Regions from separate parts of the Homo sapiens genome. Here regions 2, 3, 4, 5, 6 and 7 are each reported to be linked to region 1. Evidence: microRNA targets listed by miRTarBase, many of them from high-throughput screens and not tested one by one. Region 1 holds a microRNA gene; each other region holds the end of a gene's coding sequence. Distances are from middle to middle.
What was found. Region 1 holds the annotated microRNA hsa-miR-7977 (UUCCCAGCCAACGCACCA, at 1,537-1,554, opposite strand). A microRNA usually pairs through its seed, bases 2 to 8, with sites in the 3' UTR of a target mRNA and lowers its output. Matches are read on the target gene's strand: a 7mer-m8 pairs with bases 2 to 8, a 7mer-A1 pairs with bases 2 to 7 and ends in A, and an 8mer does both.

Region 1 (3,093 bases):
CCTGGCAAATTTTTTGAAGAAAAAGTTGACACAATTAGAAGGCTTTACTTCTGGACTCTCAGTTCCATTACCTTATTTATAGGCCTATCTTTATGTCAGTACCACACTATTTTGATTTCTATAGCTCCATAGTAATTTTATTTGTTTGTTTGTTTATTTATTTATTGAGACAGGGTTTCGCTCTGTCCCTGGGCTGGAGTGCAGTGATGTGATCTAGGCTCACTGCAACCTCTGTCTGCCAGGCTCAAGCCATCCTCCCACCTCAGCCTCCTGAGTGGCTGAGACCACAGACATGTGCCACCATACTTGGCTAATTTTTGTATTTTTTGTAGAGATGGGGTTTTGCCATATTGCCCAGGTTGGTCTTGAACTCCTGAGCTTAAGTAATTCACCTGCCTAGGCCTCCCAAATTGCTGGGATTACAGGTGCGAACTGCTATGCCTGGCCTACAGTAATTTTAAAATCAGAAAGCTCTTTTTGTTTAATTAACGAAACTTCTTTTAAGACAACGATAAGCTTTAAACATTTTCTTTTTTATATTATCTCTCTCCTCCAGTTTTTGTTTTGTTTTGTTTTGTTTTCCCAGTACTTTTCTTTCACAAAAGAAGCCTTCTTCAACTGTTAATTCTTGCTTATCTTCTCACGTTTAAAGACGGAGATTTTAAAAACTGTTTGAAGCTCTGAACGCATAGGTAAGACTGGTATACTTTGAGCTTCATTGCAGGATGATGTTTCAACTATAGTCACTGTTTGAGCATAAGTCAGGGAATAATTTATAAAATATTTGGCAACATTAAAATAATATGTCTTCTTTACTGGGAGAAATCTGCCACTGATTTTCTAAGCGAAGAAGCAGAAAGCACATGGGAAAAAATGATGTCACTGCCATCTTGACACGTTTGAAATCACAAATTATAGAAAAGTTGTATTCCTGATCGAAGAATCACTAGTATTACAGGAGTTATTAAGAAATTATTTTAGGCAGCAAGAGAGGGGAAAAGAGTCCTTGGTAAGGCTTTTTCTTTTAATAAAAAAGCAAGCCCCAAAACATTTCTTTTCTAACAGAAAGTGGCCTGAAAAACCAGACCTGCAAGCATTGATATGCAAATGCTGGTGGCTAGAAGCCAGGTCCAACCAATATGGTGGTTCCCGTGACTTTTTCTTTGTTGCCACGTATGCAGAACATCATGGTGACCAGCCAGGTAGCCATATGTGCATATTTAAAGGCTAGGGTGGGAGAGCTGGCTTTTTTGCAGGCTATGTGAATGACACACCTGGTCAAACCAATCCCCTGGCTCCTATGCAAACCAAACACCACGTCGTCCAGCCTCCCAATATAACCGACTGCTTTCTGCTACATGTGGGGTTTTCCATTTGGAGCCCTCCTCCCTCTGTATGAGGGAGCTGTTTTCTTCTTTCTTGCCTATTAAACATTCCACTCCTTAAACCACTCCACGTGTATCCGTGTCGCTAATTTTCTCCGTGCGAGAACAAGGACCTTGGGTGTTTCTCCAGACAACAGACCCATATCATTTTTGGTGCGTTGGCTGGGAAACCAAGGTACAATATCCATTGGGGTTGGTGAGCAGAAGAGCAAACTCAAAACCTGTCCTTTCATTCCGAGGCTCTTGGCTTCCATTTTAAAATCAAATCAAATCAATAACAGCATCTGTCAACCATCTAGATATGCTTAGTGTGGCTGCCATTCTTAAAGACTCGCATGTCAGCCTTGCTGGGGAGAACATGAAGACCCCCCTCCCTCCAATACCCTGGGTCATTGGGAATGTTGGCCGTGCTTCAAACCAGCTTTTCTGTTCATGGGGAAAATTAGCCATTGCATAAGGCGGGGAAAAGTTCTGAAGCAACTGAGAATTTCTGGCCAGGGCATTTCCTAGTGTTATTCAAAAGCTTCTGGACCGGACTCAGCCTCCAGCAGCCTGCCCAGGTGTTGGTAAAAGATCCCCAGTTATCCTGTCGCAAAACTTTTTTTCTGTTTCTATCCACGGTCGCTATGCCTCTTATTCTCTTTGTGTGTCGAATGTGTGGGAATTTTTACAGCCTAGGGAAGTAATCCTGTTAGGCAAGATCAGGAAATGCTGTAATAACCGGGGCTATAGCTCAGGAAAATGCTGTTGCAATCTTCTAGGAACAGAGGTCTCTGAAACCCCGGTTGTGAGATGAGTCCCTACTATGCTGCTGGTGGCACATAGTATTCCTAAGCCAACAGCGCCACCTAGTGGAAATAGACACCCTCTTCATAAGACGCATTGCTTGTCCGCTACAGTCCACCGCAGCTTCCTAATTTTTCCTTTTTGCCCCTTCCTACTGGAAACCAGGCTTTATGCTGCTTCTGTGAACAGGAAAATTCTGCCTTCAACAATTAGGAGTAAATTGTCCTCTGCAGCCAAATTTGAGTCCTGATCCTGTCCCATCAACAGGAAAGTCACGATTAGGCCCCCACATCCCTTTAAGGAAACTATTCTGTCTCCAATAAGACAGTCCTTAATTAGTAAGGGGATTTTAAGTCTGAAAGTTAACCAGAACCATTTTTCTAAGGGTTAAGGCTTTAACACGGGCCATAGTAGCAGGCAATCTAGCACATTCCCTCCATTAAAGGACACTTGCCTTTTATATAATCTTTCCCAAGGTCAATTTTTTTTAAGGGAGGCACACAGGTCACACAAGTCTAGGAAGTCAAAGGGAAATCACAGGCAGAGGACTAGAGCTACTTGAATGAGCATGACTAGCCCCAGTTGCTTGGTTTCTTTGGTGCCATGGCTTGGAGGGTCACACATACAACCATGGGCAGCACATTTAACAGGGTGCTGGGACCCAGGAACCAAGGAAGGAAAACAGTTGGGGGGACGCTCCCACTGTCTTCTTCTCCACTCTGGGTTATACAGAGAGAGGAAGGAGACAAAAGAGACACCTTTTTCTCACTTCTCTTTCTAGATGGGTAACAGATCATGTTCAGCATGTACTCCCCTGGAGTATATTCTAAAGCACTGGGACTGCTTCAACCCTGAGACTTTGTAGAAAGAGCACCTCATATTCTATGGCATAAGGGCATGGCCTTCTTACCATCTTTAAGAC
Region 2 (3,000 bases), not on the chromosome of region 1:
CCACCGCCCCGCACGGCCACTCACCTCCCAGAGAGCAGAAACCAGATCAAGCGCACGCACTCGTTTATGCCAACAACTTTATTGAGCACCAATTAGGGCAAGGGACTACCACCTTCACAGTTCTCTTGGGCTTATTAACGTCGTGGCCCACTCATTTATTTCACAAATGAGGAAACCGAGGACCCTGCTGGGAGAGTTTGGGGCCCAACCAGGGCTCCCACTGAGTCTGGGGCACCCTCAGCTCCTGCACCACAAAGCTTCGGTTGACTTGTTTCAATGTAAAGAACGTTACTTAAACAGGTCTGAGTGCTAGGCAAACTCACAAGACCTAGCTCAAAGTTTGAGCACATTGGTATGAAAAAAAGAAAAAAGGAGAATCAGCACCTTGTGATATTTAAGCAGGGGCATTTGGCATTAGCCAACCAAGCCCAGAAAGTCGGCAAAATTCTTAGCCTGAGGCATCCCCAGAACACCTGAGACTAGCTCCTGCAGCTGAGGGTTAAACTCGTGCACCTGCACTTGCACCACATCCTGTCTGAGCTCTTGCTGACAGCCCGTCTCTGGTTTGTGAAGCTCCTGGCAAGGGTGGGGGGACTCCAGAGCAGACAAGCAGGATCCACAGCACAGAAGGGCAGTGCCTCTTCCCAAACCCAAGGGAGCCTGGCTGAACTGTCACTGACTTGTATACTCACTCTCCTCCCAGAGATGACAGCAATGCTACCATTGGCCCCCAACTCTGCTCAAGACTTTGGAAGAAGTGTGAGGGTCAGAAGGGCAAGGAAATGGCACATCCAGGGACCAAGACCCCCAGAAGCAGCCCTGAAGCGTGGTCACAGTGCCAGACAAGGCGGTAAAAAACAAGGATAGCTGGGGTCCCATCACTCCAGCTTCAGAGTCACCCACACCAAGGCTGCTCTACAGACAGCGTCCGCAGTGGTGTGATGAGAGACACCAGAAGCCAGCTGACCTCCAGACTGCCCCATGAGGCAGTCTGAACTGAGGCAGTCTGAACTTCTACAGTCCGAATCTCATGCTTTGGTAAGAATTTGTTCACCAAAATACAAAGGACTCCTGGGGAACAGAGCCCCATGGGCGACTCTTTCACTGAACCCAGTGGAACTGCCACTCACTCCAGAAGATAAAGGTCCTTCCTGAGGGATTCTGACAGGAAAAAAAGGCTGGAATGGAGTAGAAAGGAGGCCCTGAATTTGAAAGGAAGCACAAAGCTAGGCTTCATATTTGTCCCAGTGCCTGTTACTTTGACCCTGACAACTCTGAGGTAGGACACACTGGGGCCATGACCCCTTTGACAGAAGAGGAACATGAGACTAGCTGTGACTAAAGGATTCACCCAGATCTCCTAGCCCAACTCTGCCCCAGAGCCCAAAGTGCTCAAGGGAGAACTCCTTTGAGAGGAGACTGCCCCGCCTTTAATGTGAAAAGCAGGCCTGGAGGCCCAGGGTGGACGTGGTCCTCAGCCAGACCAAGGGCCTCCTCTAGTGGAGGGGCTTCCTGGGCTCTCTCTGCACTGCCCCTCAGGGTGCTTTCTGGGGTCCAGTCAATGGATCTTACACACCCATGAACACTGAGCCCTTGGGGAGACGTGTCCAGGCTTCAGTTTCCCCTCCCAGCTGACAACAAAAGTAAATAATGGATGTGACTATCCTGTGGGGAAGGACTAGGAATACTGGGAGTCACTCTGGGCCAAGAAACACACACATGGGGAGACACTGTGCCTCCAAGACAGCAGCCAAGACATCCCCATCAAAACCCACAGGCTGGGCCAAGAGTGGTGGCTCACGCCTGTAATCCCAGCACTTCAGGAGGCCGAGGTGTGCGGGTCACCTAACATCAGGAGTTCGAGACCAGTCTGGACAACATGATGAAACCCTGTCTCTACTAAAAATACAAAAATTAGCCGGGAGTGGTGGTGGGCGCCTGTAATCCCAGCTACTCAGGAGGCTGAGGCAGGAGAATCACCTGAACCCGAGAGGCGGAGGTTGCAGTGAGCGGAGATTGTACCATTGCACTCCAGCCTGGGCAACAAGAGTGAAACTCCATCTTAAAAAAACAACAACAACAACAAAAAAAAAACCAAAAGACCCACAGGCTGGTGGACGTAGCTCCCCTTTCAGCTCTGCGAGCCTCACATGGAAAAGCCGACTCTTTCCGACTTTGCAAAAGGCAAAGTTCCATTAACAACTACACACATTTACAAAAGTATTTCAAAGTCTCTATAAGAAGGGAAAAAAATTTCAAAATAGCAAAGTAGAAAACTTTCCAGGGCCCTTTCTTCAAGTCAGGCCATCCATCCACTCCACTCCACTGTTTCTCATGGTGACAGCAGGCAGGAGATCTCTGCACAAAACAAAAATCCCAGGTCCCCGATGTCTCTATCGCCCCCATACTGGAAGGGCCATGATCTCTGGTCCTCTTGGCTGTGGTACCTACCAGAGGCCTTATCAAAAATATGGCATCCCTTAAGCCTTAAGGCATCTTTTAGAAGTCAGGAATGCAGAAAAGGCAGCGAAGAGTGCAAACAGGAAACAGAAAGCACCCGGTCACACACAATGTCACCAGAAGGGCAGCTAGCTTCCCATTTGAATGGGTAAAAACAACAAACCTCTCTCCATCCCAGGAAAAGGAAGAACCTGCGTCAGGCACAGGGGAGAGACCCCGCCAGGGGTCCTCTGTGGGCTCCTGCCAGGTCAGCCCTCCTCCTTCCGGCTGGGCCAGGGCAGGGGCAGGCTCCCGTGGCGGGCGGGGGCGGCAGGGAAGTGTGGGCCCACCTGGCCTCGGGCGTGGGTCTGCATGTGCACGGCCAGGTGGTGGTTGCGGTTGAAGGTCCGGCCACACTGGGGGCACTGGTAGGGCCGCTCACCGGTGTGGATGCGCTGGTGCCGGAAGAGGTCCGAGGGCCGGCGGAAGGCCTTGCCGCAGTAGGGGCAGGCGGGCCAGCCCTGGCCATTGCCGGTGTGCAGGCGCTGGTGCAGCAGCAGG
Region 3 (3,093 bases), not on the chromosome of region 1:
TCTTAGGGCTTGGACTCAGTTGCCCAGGGTCCTGGAGGCCGTGGCTTGGTTCCTCAGATCCTCAGTTTTGGAATCGTAGAGTCCTGAGTCCCTAGAACTTGAGAGCACAGTCTGAGTGACTCAGAGGCAAGAGTGGTGGGATTTGGGGAGTCTGGTTGAGTCCTAAAAGAGACCCCTCTGTCTCCGTAGTTCACAGACGAGGAGACCGAGGCCCAGACAGGGGAAGGAAGTTGGCCCAGGTCACCCAGCAAGTCAGTGGTAGAGGTAGGACTGTCCCTGAGTTCTTTCCCCAGCACCTCAGGGTCCCTCCCAAGTTAGAAGGGAGCTCCAGTTTCCCCCTCCCCTCCCACCCTTACCCTTACCCCATGGTCTCACTCAGGATCCGCCAAGGACTTTGATTATTGCGTGAAAGTGCTGACTGCCAGGACAGGAAGCTAGCTAAGATGCAAGTTCCCAGCCTAGAGCAGTGGCCTCTGGGGGGTCTAGGGCGGACCCAAGGGCAAGGCCAGGGTGGCAGCAGCTTTGGGGACTCTGGGCTGGCTCCCTCCCCTTGACACTGGCTGAAGCCCAGGTGGTCTCTAACCCCTCCCATCTCTCCCTCTCATCTTCCCCAGGGCATCTCCTCCCAACCAGGCAACTCCCCGAGTGGCACAGTGGTGTGAAGCCATGGATATCGGGCCCCCCCAACCCCATGCCCCCAGCCTCCTAGCCATAACCCTCCCTGCTGACCTCACAGATCAACGTATTAACAAGACTAACCATGATGGATGGACTGCTCCAGTCCCCCCACCTGCACAAAATTTGGGGGCCCCCCAGACTGGCCCGGACACGGGCGATGTAATAGCCCTTGTGGCCTCAGCCTTGTCCCCCACCCACTGCCAAGTACAATGACCTCTTCCTCTGAAACATCAGTGTTACCCTCATCCCTGTCCCCAGCATGTGACTGGTCACTCCTGGGGAGAGACTCCCCGCCCCTGCCACAAGAGCCCCAGGTCTGCAGTGTGCCCCTCAGTTGAGTGGGCAGGGCCGGGGGTGGTCCAGCCCTCGCCCGGCCCCCACCCCAGCTGCCCTTGCTATTGTCTGTGCTTTTGAAGAGTGTTAAATTATGGAAGCCCCTCAGGTTCCTCCCTGTCCCGCAGGACCTCTTATTTATACTAAAGTTCCCTGTTTTCTCAGCGGGTCTGTCCCCTTCGGAGGAGATGATGTAGAGGACCTGTGTGTGTACTCTGTGGTTCTAGGCAGTCCGCTTTCCCCAGAGGAGGAGTGCAGGCCTGCTCCCAGCCCAGCGCCTCCCACCCCTTTTCATAGCAGGAAAAGCCGGAGCCCAGGGAGGGAACGGACCTGCGAGTCACACAACTGGTGACCCACACCAGCGGCTGGAGCAGGACCCTCTTGGGGAGAAGAGCATCCTGCCCGCAGCCAGGGCCCCTCATCAAAGTCCTCGGTGTTTTTTAAATTATCAGAACTGCCCAGGACCACGTTTCCCAGGCCCTGCCCAGCTGGGACTCCTCGGTCCTTGCCTCCTAGTTTCTCAGGCCTGGCCCTCTCAAGGCCCAGGCACCCCAGGCCGGTTGGAGGCCCCGACTTCCACTCTGGAGAACCGTCCACCCTGGAAAGAAGAGCTCAGATTCCTCTTGGCTCTCGGAGCCGCAGGGAGTGTGTCTTCCCGCGCCACCCTCCACCCCCCGAAATGTTTCTGTTTCTAATCCCAGCCTGGGCAGGAATGTGGCTCCCCGGCCAGGGGCCAAGGAGCTATTTTGGGGTCTCGTTTGCCCAGGGAGGGCTTGGCTCCACCACTTTCCTCCCCCAGCCTTTGGGCAGCAGGTCACCCCTGTTCAGGCTCTGAGGGTGCCCCCTCCTGGTCCTGTCCTCACCACCCCTTCCCCACCTCCTGGGAAAAAAAAAAAAAAAAAAAAAAAAAGCTGGTATAAAGCAGAGAGCCTGAGGGCTAAATTTAACTGTCCGAGTCGGAATCCATCTCTGAGTCACCCAAGAAGCTGCCCTGGCCTCCCGTCCCCTTCCCAGGCCTCAACCCCTTTCTCCCACCCAGCCCCAACCCCCAGCCCTCACCCCCTAGCCCCCAGTTCTGGAGCTTGTCGGGAGCAAGGGGGTGGTTGCTACTGGGTCACTCAGCCTCAATTGGCCCTGTTTCAGCAATGGGCAGGTTCTTCTTGAAATTCATCACACCTGTGGCTTCCTCTGTGCTCTACCTTTTTATTGGGGTGACAGTGTGACAGCTGAGATTCTCCATGCATTCCCCCTACTCTAGCACTGAAGGGTTCTGAAGGGCCCTGGAAGGAGGGAGCTTGGGGGGCTGGCTTGTGAGGGGTTAAGGCTGGGAGGCGGGAGGGGGGCTGGACCAAGGGGTGGGGAGAAGGGGAGGAGGCCTCGGCCGGCCGCAGAGAGAAGTGGCCAGAGAGGCCCAGGGGACAGCCAGGGACAGGCAGACATGCAGCCAGGGCTCCAGGGCCTGGACAGGGGCTGCCAGGCCCTGTGACAGGAGGACCCCGAGCCCCCGGCCCGGGGAGGGGCCATGGTGCTGCCTGTCCAACATGTCAGCCGAGGTGCGGCTGAGGCGGCTCCAGCAGCTGGTGTTGGACCCGGGCTTCCTGGGGCTGGAGCCCCTGCTCGACCTTCTCCTGGGCGTCCACCAGGAGCTGGGCGCCTCCGAACTGGCCCAGGACAAGTACGTGGCCGACTTCTTGCAGTGGGGTGAGTGCCTACCCTCGGGGCTCCTGCAGATGGGGTGGGGGTGGGGCAGGAGACAGGTCTGGGCACAGAGGCCTGGCTGTTGGGGGGGCAGGATGGCAGGATGGGCATGGGGAGATCCTCCCATCCTGGGGCTCAGAGTGTGGACCTGGGCCCTGGGGCAACATTTCTCTGTCCTATGCCACCACTCTGGAGGGGCAGAGTAAGGTCAGCAGAGGCTAGGGTGGCTGTGACTCAGAGCCATGGCTTAGGAGTCACAGCAGGCTAGGCTGCCAACAGCCTCCCATGGCCTCTCTGCACCCCGCCTCAGGGTCAGGGTCAGGGTCATGCTGGGAGCTCCCTCTCCTAGGACCCTCCCCCCAAAAGTGGGCTCTATGGCCCTCT
Region 4 (3,093 bases), not on the chromosome of region 1:
TCTTACGAACTCCTCAAGCCCCCGCCCATCTGCCCAAGAGACTCCGTCAAAGTGATCAACAAGGAAGGGGAGGTGATGGATGTGTATCGGTGTGACCACTGCCGCGTCCTCTTCCTGGACTATGTGATGTTCACGATTCACATGGGCTGCCACGGCTTCCGTGACCCTTTCGAGTGTAACATGTGTGGATATCGAAGCCATGATCGGTATGAGTTCTCGTCTCACATAGCCAGAGGAGAACACAGAGCCCTGCTGAAGTGAATATCTGGTCTCAGGGATTGCTCCTATGTATTCAGCATCGTTTCTAAAAACCAATGACCTCGCCTAACAGATTGCTCTCAAAACATACTCAGTTCCAAACTTCTTTTCATACCATTTTTAGCTGTGTTCACAGGGGTAGCCAGGGAAACACTGTCTTCCTTCAGAAATTATTCGCAGGTCTAGCATATTATTACTTTTGTGAAACCTTTGTTTTCCCATCAGGGACTTGAATTTTATGGAATTTAAAAGCCAAAAAGGTATTTGGTCATTATCTTCTACAGCAGTGGAATGAGTGGTCCCGGAGATGTGCTATATGAAACATTCTTTCTGAGATATATCAACCACACGTGGAAAAGCCTTTCAGTCATACATGCAAATCCACAAAGAGGAAGAGCTGACCAGCTGACCTTGCTGGGAAGCCTCACCCTTCTGCCCTTCACAGGCTGAAGGGTTAAGATCTAATCTCCCTAATCTAAATGACAGTCTAAGAGTAAGTAAAAGAACAGCCATAAAATAAGTATCTGTTACGAGTAACTGAAGACCCCATTCTCCAAGCATCAGATCCATTTCCTATCACAACATTTTTAAAAAATGTCATCTGATGGCACTTCTGCTTCTGTCCTTTACCTTCCCATCTCCAGTGAAAAGCTGAGCTGCTTTGGGCTAAACCAGTTGTCTATAGAAGAAAATCTATGCCAGAAGAACTCATGGTTTTAAATATAGACCATCATCGAAACTCCAGAAATTTATCCACTGTGGATGATGACATCGCTTTCCTTTGGTCAAGGTTGGCAGAGCAAGGGTATAAAGGGGGAAATTGTTTGGCAGCACCAACAGAAAACAAACAAACAAAAAACAGCTACCTAAAACTTCTTGAAAGAGTTCATGGAGAATTGGTGATACAGACCCAAAGCAAATTTGCCAATGATATTTTCCACAAAAAAAGTCCAAAAAGTATGGCTCAGCCTCCCCCTCCCCACAGGAGAGGAATTGGAGATAGATGGCATGTGTGTTTAGATCGGAGTTGAGCTCCGGAATGGGGTGAGGAGGGACACCTCTATTGAGAGGTTCTCCTTGATCAGGCAGGCTTCGGCCCTTTTTTTCCCATTTAAATGGAACTGCTGTATTCCATGAAAATTCCTGAAAGTCTGATCACGGTTCTGCAGATGTATAAGTCATCCTTGTCACTCATAATATGTACATACTATCAGGAGGAGTGCTGTTATCATGGTAAAATTAGCACTGGAATAGGAGGTCACAAAATGCTGGCTAATTAGCTATGTGACTTTGAGAAATCGTTTAACTTTTTTTTTTTTTTTTTTTTTGAGACAGGATCTCACTCTGTTGCCCAGGCTGGAGTGCAGTGGTGCAATCATGGCTCAGTGCAGCCTCGACCTCCCCAGGCTCAGGTGATCCTCCCACCTCAGCCTCTTGAGTACTGGGACAACAAGTGCACACCACCATGTCTGGCTACATTTTGTTCTTTTTGTAGAGATAGGGGTCTCACTATGTTGCCCATGCTGGTCTTGAACTCCTGGGCTCAAGCAATCAGCCCGCCTCAGCCTCCTAAAGTGCTGGGATTACAGGTGTGAGCCACCACACCCAGCCTTATTTAACTCTTAAAACTCAGTTTCCGGCCAGGCTCGGTGGCTCACACCTGTAATCCCAACACTTTGGGAAGCCGAGGCAGGCGCATCATTTGAGGTCAGGAGTTCGAGACCAGCCTGACCCACATGGTGAAACCCTGTCTCTACTAAAAATACAAAAATTAGCTGGGCAGTAGTGGCACATGCCTGTAATCCCAGCTACTCCGGAGGCTGAGGCAGAAAAATCGCTTAAGCCTGGGAGGTTGAGGTTGCGGTGAGTGGAGATCACACTACTGCACTCCAGTCTGGGCGACAGAGTGAGACCCTGTCTCAAACAAAACAAAACAAAAACAAACAAACAAAAACAAAAAAAACTCAGTTTCCTCATCCATAAAATAGGAATTAGATTTCAATGTTCTCTTAGGTCCCTTCTAGCTTTAATTCATATGTGATTATGCAGTAACCACAAGGTATTTTTTAAACCTCCTAATGTATGGATATTAAGCAGAAGAGTATTTATATGAATACATGTTTCACATTCCTTTGGTATGAAAATGGTGTGTTAAGTTTTTCCTTTAACCACTGAGTTGTGAATGTGAAGAAGGTGGTGGAGAGGAACAAAAAACAGAAAGGTATTTTGATCTTGCCACAAAGCATACACACAAATTGGCACATGCAGCTGTTTGCCAAAGCCTTCTTTTTTTTTTTACTTTTTAAGAAATTATGTTAGGGAAAATAAATTCTGCTTCCAGGGACAACTTCATGGAGCCTATTTACAAATTAAGAGTCAGCTTAATTTGTAACATTTCTACCAGAGCCAAGAATCCCAAATTCCTGGTAGATTAGTGTTTTATTTCTAAGGGGCTTATGCATTCGGCTCCAACTCAACTCGTCTATGTGCTGCCAGTAATTAAAATGTTCCACCTCAGACTGCACAAATGGCTTATCCTTCTTTGTGGCATGGCGTCTGTCTCAGGAAAAAAGGTTTTATGAAATTCCATGGCAACAGTCCCAACATGTTTGAGACTTCAGCTAAAGGAATGGATGTATTTTGGTGTGTAGTCTTCAGTATATCACTGTATTTCCGTAATACTAGACTCCAAGCTATGCCAGATTGCTTATTCCCTTTGTGAAAGAGGAGTTGCTCATTACGTTCTTGAAATATCGCACATCCTGTTGGTTCTTCAAGGGACAAGAGAAAGAGAATTTGGAAGCAGGGATTAGTAGAAGAGAAAACGAGGGAAAG
Region 5 (3,093 bases), not on the chromosome of region 1:
CCGTTCAGATGAGAGGCTGGGAAAAACGTGTCTATCTGTGAGTTTTTAATGCAGCCACAAGGTCCTGAATTCACACGAATCTGTTTGTACTCCTTTGCTTGTGCCCACACTCTAAGGCACTCTCCTGTGTCTTGCAGAAATGGGAACAGATCGAGGGCAACTCCAAGCTGAGGCACGTGGGCAGCAACCTGTGCCTGGACAGTCGCACGGCCAAGAGCGGGGGCCTAAGCGTGGAGGTGTGTGGCCCGGCCCTTTCGCAGCAGTGGAAGTTCACGCTCAACCTGCAGCAGTAGGAGGGTCCGGGAGGCCCTGCCGTCCTGTCTCCTGCACCATTGGGTGGAGTCTGGTGATCACATTATTGATTATGTTTCTTAAACTTTCCGCGAAACTAATATACCTCAGTATTCCATCATGGTCTGAAAGTCAAACTTCGGCAAGGCACGGACGACTGTGCAGACACAGCAGCGGCAAGAAGCGAGAACTGCCCTCCCCCTCCTCTCGGTGCAGCCCAGCCGGGCCCCCTTCCCCAGGCCGGAGCGCCCCTCTTCCTTCCAGCTTTCACTTCTGCCGGCTCCGCAACTGAGTGACACCCAGCGACAACCGACTGGGGAGTGGTAGAAGCAACTGAACGGATGCGTGCGAGCTGAGGACAGGGCGGGAGGAGGGGGCACACATGCCCCAGGGGAGCGAGGAGAACTCTTGAAATCTCCATTTTCAATCCCTTCGAAATCACGTATGGTTTCCACAAAGCCGAGTCGTGTCACGTGGCAGGTTTACGTCAATAGTCCCTCTCTCTGCTCCTCCATTCGCAAGTGTCTTCCTGGGCCAGACTCCCCTCCACCTCATGTACTTGCTATATTGAGGATGAAGTTTTCTATGGTGGGACACTAAATATAAAGCTATATAGAGAAAGAATGTACGGTCAGTTCCCTATGGTTTCTGTAGATCATCGTCATCTTGTATATTCCCCACAAAGCCGTTCGCAGCTTCCGGGAGAAGGGGCCAGAGCCCGGTGGGGCCAGTTTCTCACAGAGGGAGGAGGTGGCCTTTGTCCCCTGGAGCCCGATCAGCCAGTTGGTGCTACTGCTGTGGCCAGCTGGGGGGCTTCCTCCAGACCACCGGCCTCGGCCCCGGCATCCCTGTTGGGCGTCAGCCTGAGAGTCCCTACTGTGCGTCAGAATCCACCTTGCGTGCTGTGCGTATCTGTGAACCTGGAGCGGTTACTTATTTTGACAGATATCACTTTGGGTCTTTTTACATTAAATTTCTTTTCTCTAAGGAATATAAGACATACCCCATAGCTCTGTGTGAGCCAGCAATACCGCTGCCCCCTGGCGACAGGGCAGACCAATGATGCCAGGCAGCTGTCACACGCTAGTATTGGCTTCATTGTGATCTGAGCCCTGCACGCTGGGCCTTCAGAATTAATGGCCAGCAGTGTCAGGGATGAGCCCGTCAGCCAGGGCACAGGCCTGGCTCACAGTCCTGCACACCTGCTGGCCTGGGGAGCTCCAGCCAGGCAGCGAGTCCTGCCCCGCCCGCAGCTCCCTCCCACACCCCGCCTGGCCAAGATGACTGCTTCAGGGGGCTTTGGGGAAAGAATTAGGAAGGGTCAGAACCAAACAATACCTGCTCATTTACACTGAGGATTCAGGGCGGGAGACAGGAGCCTTGGGGTCCTGTTAAACCACAGACAGTTATGAACTGAAAGTCATAACGGGGAGAGGTGCCTGGCTTCTACCTGGGTGCTCAGGAATGTTCCTCGTCACCCCTGCCACTCTGTGGTCGGTGCCCTGCTTCCTCCTCCACTCCTGGCCGCCTTCTCCAGCGCCGCACACACAGATGCTCAGTCTCAGAGAGGCTGGCACGGCCTGGCAGTCTGAGAAAAGCGTCAGTTAGGCACACCTGCAGGCCCCTCGGTGGGACAGCGGCGGCCTTGGAGTTAGGAGCCACCCTGGGAGGTTGTGCCGGTGCCATGCTCCTCCCTGTGTCTTGTATGAAAGGGGCCACTGTGTGTCTTCCTCCCCGGCGGGAGCCCCACATGTGTGCACTGTAGGACAGCGGCCCCGAGGTGGAAGCCTGGCTGGAGGGCTGCCCTATAGGTCTTCTCTTCCCGCCTCCCCTGCCATGCAACCAGATGTGTTGTGAGTGGGCAGCGTGCCCCCACGCTGGAGTAACTCCGCACGCTTCTGTCTTTCACGGTGGGCGCTCGGGGGGAGCCTGAGGAAAACCCCCTTAGGTACCTGTGCGAGGCTGTGGAGTGCAGGCCAGAGCAGGGTGTGCGTAGCCCCCAGCACCCAGGTTCTTCTGTCAGACCCTGTGACCTGCGAGCTGCTACTACTGTAAGGAGGGAAATGGATGAATCTGGCTCGTTTTAAAATCACGTTTTCTGACGAATCCTTTGCCCCTTCACCTTTACCCCGCCCGCACCCCTAGGCCCTCTCAGCCTTCCTATCATCCCACGTGTCTACCCAGACCCTTGTGCGGCCCATGCCCTGGGGGCGGCGTCCTGTCCCTGAGCTGGGAGGCGGCTTTGGATGGTCCGGGCGTCAAGAGCAGGGGTGGGCCGGGGAGGGGTCCTTTGCGGTGAGCTATGTTTACATGACACAGTGTGCCAAAGTGACTTACTGCGGTTGCGTTAGTTTTTAATCATCAGGACTATCTCACCCTCCCACTCCTGTTTTTAAAACTCAGAATTCTTTCCTAAGAGCCCTTCGAGCAAAGCGTGCCGAAGTTAGTTGTCTTCTCTGTGCTGGTCCTTTCTTATGTCCTCATAAAAGCTCAGATGATGGTATCTGTGAGTATGTTTTGCAAATTCAAAATATAGTTTGGTAATTTTTTTTTCCAGTTGATTTTTAAAAAGAACTGCTGTACAGAGCTTGTACTTTGTCCATTTTATAGATGGAAACCATCCTTGAAAATTGTTTAACTTAAATAAAGAGAAGATACTTTCTAGATACCGCTCTTTGCTGGCCAGAGTCTGTCCTGGTGTGTGAGGGCTGGGTGGGGTGGGTGTGGGGACTGGGATTGGGGTCAGCCTTCTGCAGCTCCTGCTCAGTGGCTGTTTCTTATCACCTTTTGCAGATGCGCTTT
Region 6 (3,093 bases), not on the chromosome of region 1:
CAAAAAATTAGCCGGGCATGGTGGCAGGCACCTGTAATTCCAGCTACTTGGGAGGCTGAGGCAGGAGAATCTCATGAATCTGGGAGGCGGAGGTTGCAGTGAGCTGAGATCGTGCCATTGCACTCCAGCCTGGGCAACAGAGCGAGAATCCATCTCACTGGATTGTCTCACTATATCACTCAGGCTCTAATTTTTGTACTAGAAGCCTCCTTAGTATCTTATCTTTTCCTAAGTCCTGGCTTGTTTTCCATACGTTACTTTTTCATATTACATATTACATTACCAGGTCACAGATGGGAACTACTGATTTGCTTCTCTCCCTCTCTCAACAGTATTTTAATAAGCGGAAAACCTACTTTGCTCACGATGCCCTTCAGCAGTGCACAGTTGGGGATATTGTGCTTCTCAGAGCTTTACCTGTTCCACGAGCAAAGCATGTGAAACATGAACTGGCTGAGATCGTTTTCAAAGTTGGAAAAGTCATAGATCCAGTGACAGGAAAGCCCTGTGCTGGAACTACCTACCTGGAGAGTCCGTTGAGTTCGGAAACCACCCAGCTAAGCAAAAATCTGGAAGAACTCAATATCTCTTCAGCACAGTGAAGCGGGAGTGGAAGAAGGATCTAAAGGGAAAAACTGACATGTTTATGTTATGGAAAAAGAAATTTTTCTAAGTTTCATCACAAACTGTGTCCAGTTTCTCTGTGGTGTTTATGAAATAGCTAAAAGCAAATGAAGTAAAGGGCATACTATGGTTTTTCACAAAGGTTTATGGTCGTGTTTCAAATTTTCATCATTTCAGTGAACATACTTCCACGTTACATTAAGTGTGCCTAGCAGTCTGTTGCATTTTGTAAGCTCACAGTTTTTTGTTTTGAGATGGAATCTCACTCTGTCACCCAGGCTGGAGTGCAGTGGTGCAATCTTGGCTCACTGCAAGCTCCGCCTCCCGGGTTCACGCCGTTCTCCTGCCTCAGCCTCCCGAGTAGCTGGGACTACAGGCGCCTGCCACCATGCCCAGCTAATTTTTTTTTTTTTTTTTTTGGTATTTTTAGTAGAGACGGGGTTTCACCGTGTTAGCCAGGATGGTCTTGATCTCCTGACCTCGTGATCTGCCTGCCTTGGCCTCTCAGAGTGCTGGGATTACAGGCGTGAGCCACTGTGCTTAGCAAGCTCACTGTTTTAGAAGGTTTTATTTTTGTCTTTTGAGACAGGGTTTTGCTTTGTTGTGGGGGCTGGAGTGCAGTGGTATGATCTTGGCTCACTGCAGCCTTGACCTCCCTGGCTCTAGCATCTTTCCACCCCAGCCTTCTGAGTAGCTGGGAACACAGGAGCGTACCACTACACTTGGCTGATTTTTTGTAAATTTTGTAGAGACAGGGTCTCCCTGTGTTGCCCAGGTTGGTCTCGGACTCCTGGGAGCAATCTGCCCATCTTGGCCTAACAGTGCTGGGATTACAGGCCTGAGCCACTGTGCCCAGCCGGTTTCCTTTATTTCATTCAAAGGAATTTTGAATTTATCTTAGAACCTTTATTTTGAAGGAAGAAAGTCTTTTTTTTTTTTGAGCTGGAGTTTCACTCTTGTTGCCCAGGCTGGAGTGCAATGGCATGATCTCAGCCCACCACGACCTCCGCCTCCCAGGTTCAAGTGATTCTGCTTCAGCCTCCTGAGTAGCTAGGATTACAGGCATGTGCCACCACGCCCAGCTAATTTTGTATTTTTAGTAGGGATGGGGTTTCTCCATGTTTGTCAGGCTAGTCTTGAACTCCGGACCTCAGGTGATCCGCCCGCCTGGGCCTCTCAAAGTGCTTGGATTACAGGCATGAGCCACTGCATGTAATGACCAGCCACTGGTCAGAATTCTTTCAATCAAGCTGTGTTAATAAGAATATTGATGTGTGGAAAATAAAATTTTACAATTCTGTGCCACTTTTCTTACATCCTAGGCTAGATTAAATAGGTGTAAGTTCCTAAAATCTGACACATTAAGTTGTAGGACTTCTCCCACATGCATTTGGGATGGAGAGTGAGTTTTGTTGCTATTCATTAATATACCACGATAATTTAGATTTTGACTTAAGGAAGCATTGAGCAGTATATTTCCGTTTTCTGGCCCCTAGAAAGAGAATAGGGGACTTTTTTTTTGAGATCGAATCTCCCTCTGTTGCCCAGGTTGGAGTGCAGTGGCACAATCTTGGCTCACTGCAGCCTCCGCCTCCTGGGTTCAAGCAATTCTGCCTCAGCCTCCTCGAGTAGCTGGGGCTACAGGAGTGTACCACCACGCCCAGCTAATTTTTTTTTGTATTTTTAGTAGAGACGAGATTTCACCATGTTGGCCAGGCTGGTCTCGAACGCTTGATCTCAGGTGATTTGCCCACCTCAGCCTCCCAAAGTGCTGGGATTACAGGCGTGAGCCACTGCGACTGGCCAAAAGGGGAATATTTCAATCATAGCTGATACATATTTGTTTGTTTGTTTGTTTTGAGATGGAGTCTCGCTCTGTTGCCCAGGCTGGAGCACAATGGTGTGATCTCAGCTCACTGCAACCTCTGCCTCCTGGGTTCAAGCAATTCTCCTGGCTCCCAAGTAGCTGGGATTACAGCTGCCTGCCACCATGTCCAGCTAATTTTTTTTAATTTTATTATTATTTTTTGTATTTTTAGTAGAGACTGAGTTTCACCATGTTGGACAGCCTGGTCTTGAACTCCTGACCTCAGGTGATCCCATCCGCCTCAGCCTGACAAAGTGCTGGGATTACAGCGTTGAGCCACCGTGCCCAGCCTTGATACATGTATTGTGTAAGCACAGGGTTTCCAGGATGATCACAGGCCTTGCCGGCCTCAGGGATCAATCTAGTTGGGGAGGTATGCACAGGTGCCTCCATGGCAAACAGGATATGGGTGAGGGTGAATTGAAGGTCACTTCTCAGGAGAGATGAGATGGTGCTAGAAGTAAGCATTGAAGCAAGAGTCTCCAGGACAGTAGATGATGGGGTGGAAAGGGCATTTGAGGCAGAGGAAAGGGAATGTAAAATCCACAAAGTGAATGAAAGTATAACCAGGGCTTCCGGAAGCAGATGAGGATTGCTGCAAC
Region 7 (3,093 bases), 120 Mb from region 1:
TAGCTACTTGGAAGGCTCAGGTGGGAGGATTACCTGAGCCCAGGGAGGTCGGGGCAGTGAGCCATGATCATGCCACTGAACAGAGTGAGACCCTGACTCAAAAAAAAAAAAAAAAAGGGGCTGGGTGCAGTGGCTCACGCTTGTAATCCCAGCACTTTGGGCGGCCGAGGCAGTCAGGAGTTCGAGACCAGCCTGACCAGCTTGGTGAAACCCCGTCTCTACTGAAAATACAAAATTAGCCTGGCATGGTGGTGCGTGCCTATAATCCCAGCTACTCAGGAGGCTGAGGAAGGAGAGAATCACTTGAACCCGGGAGGTGGAGGTTGCAGTGAGCCGAGATCGCACCACTGCACTCCCGCCTGGGCAACAGAGTGAGACTCCCTCTCAAAAAAAAAAAAAAAAAAAAAAAAGAAAGAAAGAAAGAAAGAAAAAGAAAAGCAAAAAGAGGCCAGGCGTGGTGGCTCACACCTGGATTCTCAGCACTTTGGGAGACTGAGGTGGGTGGATCACGAGGTCAAAGAGACTCTGTCTCAAAAAAAAAAAAAAAAAAAAAAAAAAAAAGAAGCCAGTTATTTAGTGGAGAATGACTGATTAGGCCCAGATGAAGAATAGAACATTTCAAAGTTGGACTTTCCAGCCTATAAAAATAGGGTTGGCTATTAACATCAGTGGAGACTAAAAATACAAAGAGTAAGAAATAGTTAATAGCTGTGTGTGTGTGTGTGTGTGTGTGTGTGTGTGTATGCATGCACTGTCGTGTTAGCTAAGCAAGTATCCACAAAGTCAACTGTACACAGAGGTAGGGCAGCTGACATCTAGGTGACAAAAACTGCCCCCTCCCAAGCTCCCTTTCTACCCACTGAAGCTAAAGTCGAGAGGGCACTGTTAGGGGCCATTACTCTCAGTTAAGATAGTGTTTCTCACACTTGGGTATACAAATAGACTCCTTAAGAAAAGATATTAATACTACCACAGATCCCTAAAAATATGCCTGGTGACCCAAGTTACAGAAACTCTAGGTTTAGAACTAAAGTCTTAATCTAAGGAGCATCTTTCAGTTGTGAATTATCACTGCAAGAGTTGAATCTTTAGAATGGGTTAAATATTGTGTTTTATATGAAAGCTCACAATTAAAAAATGTTCCTGTTACTTGCAGAGCTCTGACAAAATTTCCCTGGACGCCCGGATAAGCAAGGATAGCATTGGGTGGTCAAACCCAAGAGAAAGGAAATGAAGAAAAAGGGCATAATTGTGGGAAGCCCTAGGAGGACAGCTGTGCAGGAGCTCTAGGAGCAGCCAGCACTGGAGGCGGCGGCTCTGGGAGGCAGGTCTTCAGGAAAAGAAGTCCAGCTGATAGTGATCTGATGCCTGGTCTATGAGGAAAATTGCATTTTGAGACATTTTGTTGATCATTTGCAACATTTCAGAAGAATTAGCAATAGGTATATACCAAAAAAGAAGCAATTATTAATTTCAGAAAAAAACATTGTACAAAAGAGGAAAGGTAATCATAGTGTACTGCCTGGCTCAGTGGTAAACAGTATTTCTAGCATCATAATAATATAAACATTGAAAGTTAACAAAAATTGTGATACAATTATCTGAGGTGAACGAAAACGGGAAGATTATGTTTTTTTAATTTAATTTTGAGACAGCGTTTTGCTCTGTTACCCAGGCTGGAGAGCAGTGGCGCGATCTCAGCTAACTGCAACCTCCACCTCCCGGACTGAAACGATTCTCCTGCCTCAGCCTCCCAAGTATCTGGGATTATAGGCACCCACCACCGTGCCCGGTTAATTTTTGTATTTTTAGTAGAGATGGGGTTTCACCATGTTGGCAAGGCTGGTCTTGAACTCCTGACCTTAAGTCATCTGCCCGCCTCGGCCTCCCAAAGTGCTGGGATTACAGGTATGAGCCACTGCGCCCGGCCACCTTGCCTAATTTGAATGTCCTGGCATGCAAATTCATATTTAAACTCTGGACGGAAATGCTCGAACCACCGGGCAGTGAGGGTTTGACTGGGCTCACTCATGCTGTGGAGGTGTGCTGAAGCCCACACCAGTCAGGAGAGAATGGAGTCCCTTATGCCCCATGTATAAGCATGGTAGTCCTTGACCTGTTTGAGTCCAGGACCCCAAGCCTTGCAACAAGGGCCTATTCTCCACCCAGTGTGGACTGCTATGCTGGCTCACCTCCCTAATGAGAACCTGTGTACTTATTATTTGCACAATGATTGATGAAGATTCTCTACCTCTGTAATGCCAATTTCCGTATAAACAGGTTTCTTTCCCTCCAAAGAAACATGTCTATATTCTAAGCTAAAAGTTCTACATTAATTCCCTAAATTTTATGGATTAGGAGGGTGAGTTTTCTTACTCTCGTACTCTACCCCGTAGAATCTTTACTACCCAGACAAATTTCAGAATGAATTTATAAGGAGACACCAATGGAGAGAAAACCTTTATTTGCATAACAACAAACATGGGTGAAGTAAGAAGAGGCATATGAAAACAAGATTAAGGTGGAAGAATCCTTGGTGGGAGGAGAGGAGGAGAAAGCAGAGGCACTCTTGTAGCCATAAACGCATTTCCTTGTTGGCATCTGGACTGCTCCCTCCTCATGCTCCACTGAGACTTCTCTTTGCTTGGCTCATAGTCTCACTGCTGGCCCTGCTTCCTTGTCTCACAGTCCCAGAGTGCTCCCTCCCCAAACCCGATGGAGGAGCGCAGCTTCATACCCTATTGTGTGGGACAGCAGCTACTCAGAAGGTGTTACTTGGATTTTTTGCAGCTGTTAGTGATTCTGACACCCTTGGACCTCCAGGAGTAGCTCCTCCTGCCACGAGAGGACTCTGGCTTTTCTAATAAGGAAGGTTCTGGCCAATCAGTCCAAGAAAGGCCCGGATTCTCTTCCAAGGTGTTGTCTCTGCAGAAATGTTCCTCAGGGTGGAAGGTGCTGCTGCAGCAAGGGATGTCCCCTGAGTTTTCAGGTATGTAGTCTGGTGAGAGAAAGGCAGGAGAGGAAAACTCAAGCCTCTGCTTCTCCCAGGCACAGGTCCTTAAGCTCCTCTCTAGCTACTTTCCTTCCAAAGTC

Region 2: miRTarBase lists ZNF783 as a target of hsa-miR-7977. Seed matches in the 3' UTR shown: 7mer-m8 at 1,945-1,951, 7mer-m8 at 1,810-1,816 and 7mer-m8 at 1,626-1,632.
Region 3: miRTarBase lists DMWD as a target of hsa-miR-7977. Seed matches in the 3' UTR shown: 7mer-m8 at 1,499-1,505 and 7mer-A1 at 1,892-1,898.
Region 4: miRTarBase lists IKZF3 as a target of hsa-miR-7977. Seed matches in the 3' UTR shown: 8mer at 672-679 and 7mer-m8 at 1,835-1,841.
Region 5: miRTarBase lists GALNT2 as a target of hsa-miR-7977. Seed matches in the 3' UTR shown: 7mer-m8 at 2,520-2,526.
Region 6: miRTarBase lists MRPS17 as a target of hsa-miR-7977. Seed matches in the 3' UTR shown: 7mer-m8 at 988-994, 7mer-m8 at 1,136-1,142, 8mer at 1,318-1,325 and 7mer-m8 at 1,448-1,454.
Region 7: the mRNA of PHF7 is a reported target of hsa-miR-7977. The part of its 3' UTR that is shown has no 7-base or 8-base seed match.

The regions. Positions count from the first base shown.
Region 1 is chr3:176,513,564-176,516,656 of GRCh38, reverse strand. It overlaps MIR7977 (microRNA 7977), which reads right to left and starts at 1,554; the gene lies at 1,506-1,554.
Region 2 is chr7:149,282,052-149,285,051 of GRCh38, reverse strand. ZNF783 (zinc finger protein 783) reads right to left here. Exons shown (of 6, transcript NM_001195220.2): 6 at 64-3,000. The coding sequence ends at 2,709. Among named protein-coding and RNA genes, the nearest start is that of ZNF783, 21 kb to the right of the region's middle. RefSeq lists a silencer at 1-69.
Region 3 is chr19:45,781,812-45,784,904 of GRCh38, reverse strand. DMWD (DM1 locus, WD repeat containing) reads left to right here. Exons shown (of 5, transcript NM_004943.2): 4 at 190-264; 5 at 615-1,958. The coding sequence ends at 662. DMPK (DM1 protein kinase) reads left to right here and starts at 2,415. Exons shown (of 15, transcript NM_004409.5): 1 at 2,415-2,712. The coding sequence starts at 2,553.
Region 4 is chr17:39,762,958-39,766,050 of GRCh38, reverse strand. It overlaps IKZF3 (IKAROS family zinc finger 3), which reads left to right. Exons shown (of 8, transcript NM_012481.5): 8 at 1-3,093. The coding sequence ends at 261. Among named protein-coding and RNA genes, the nearest start is that of GRB7, 27 kb to the right of the region's middle.
Region 5 is chr1:230,279,166-230,282,258 of GRCh38, forward strand. It overlaps GALNT2 (polypeptide N-acetylgalactosaminyltransferase 2), which reads left to right. Exons shown (of 16, transcript NM_004481.5): 16 at 138-2,957. The coding sequence ends at 293. Among named protein-coding and RNA genes, the nearest start is that of PGBD5, 150 kb to the right of the region's middle.
Region 6 is chr7:55,954,577-55,957,669 of GRCh38, forward strand. MRPS17 (mitochondrial ribosomal protein S17) reads left to right here. Exons shown (of 3, transcript NM_015969.3): 3 at 333-1,924. The coding sequence ends at 602. Among named protein-coding and RNA genes, the nearest start is that of MRPS17, 4.2 kb to the left of the region's middle.
Region 7 is chr3:52,422,996-52,426,088 of GRCh38, reverse strand. It overlaps PHF7 (PHD finger protein 7), which reads right to left. Exons shown (of 11, transcript NM_016483.7): 11 at 2,448-2,998. The coding sequence ends at 2,772. Among named protein-coding and RNA genes, the nearest start is that of PHF7, 14 kb to the right of the region's middle.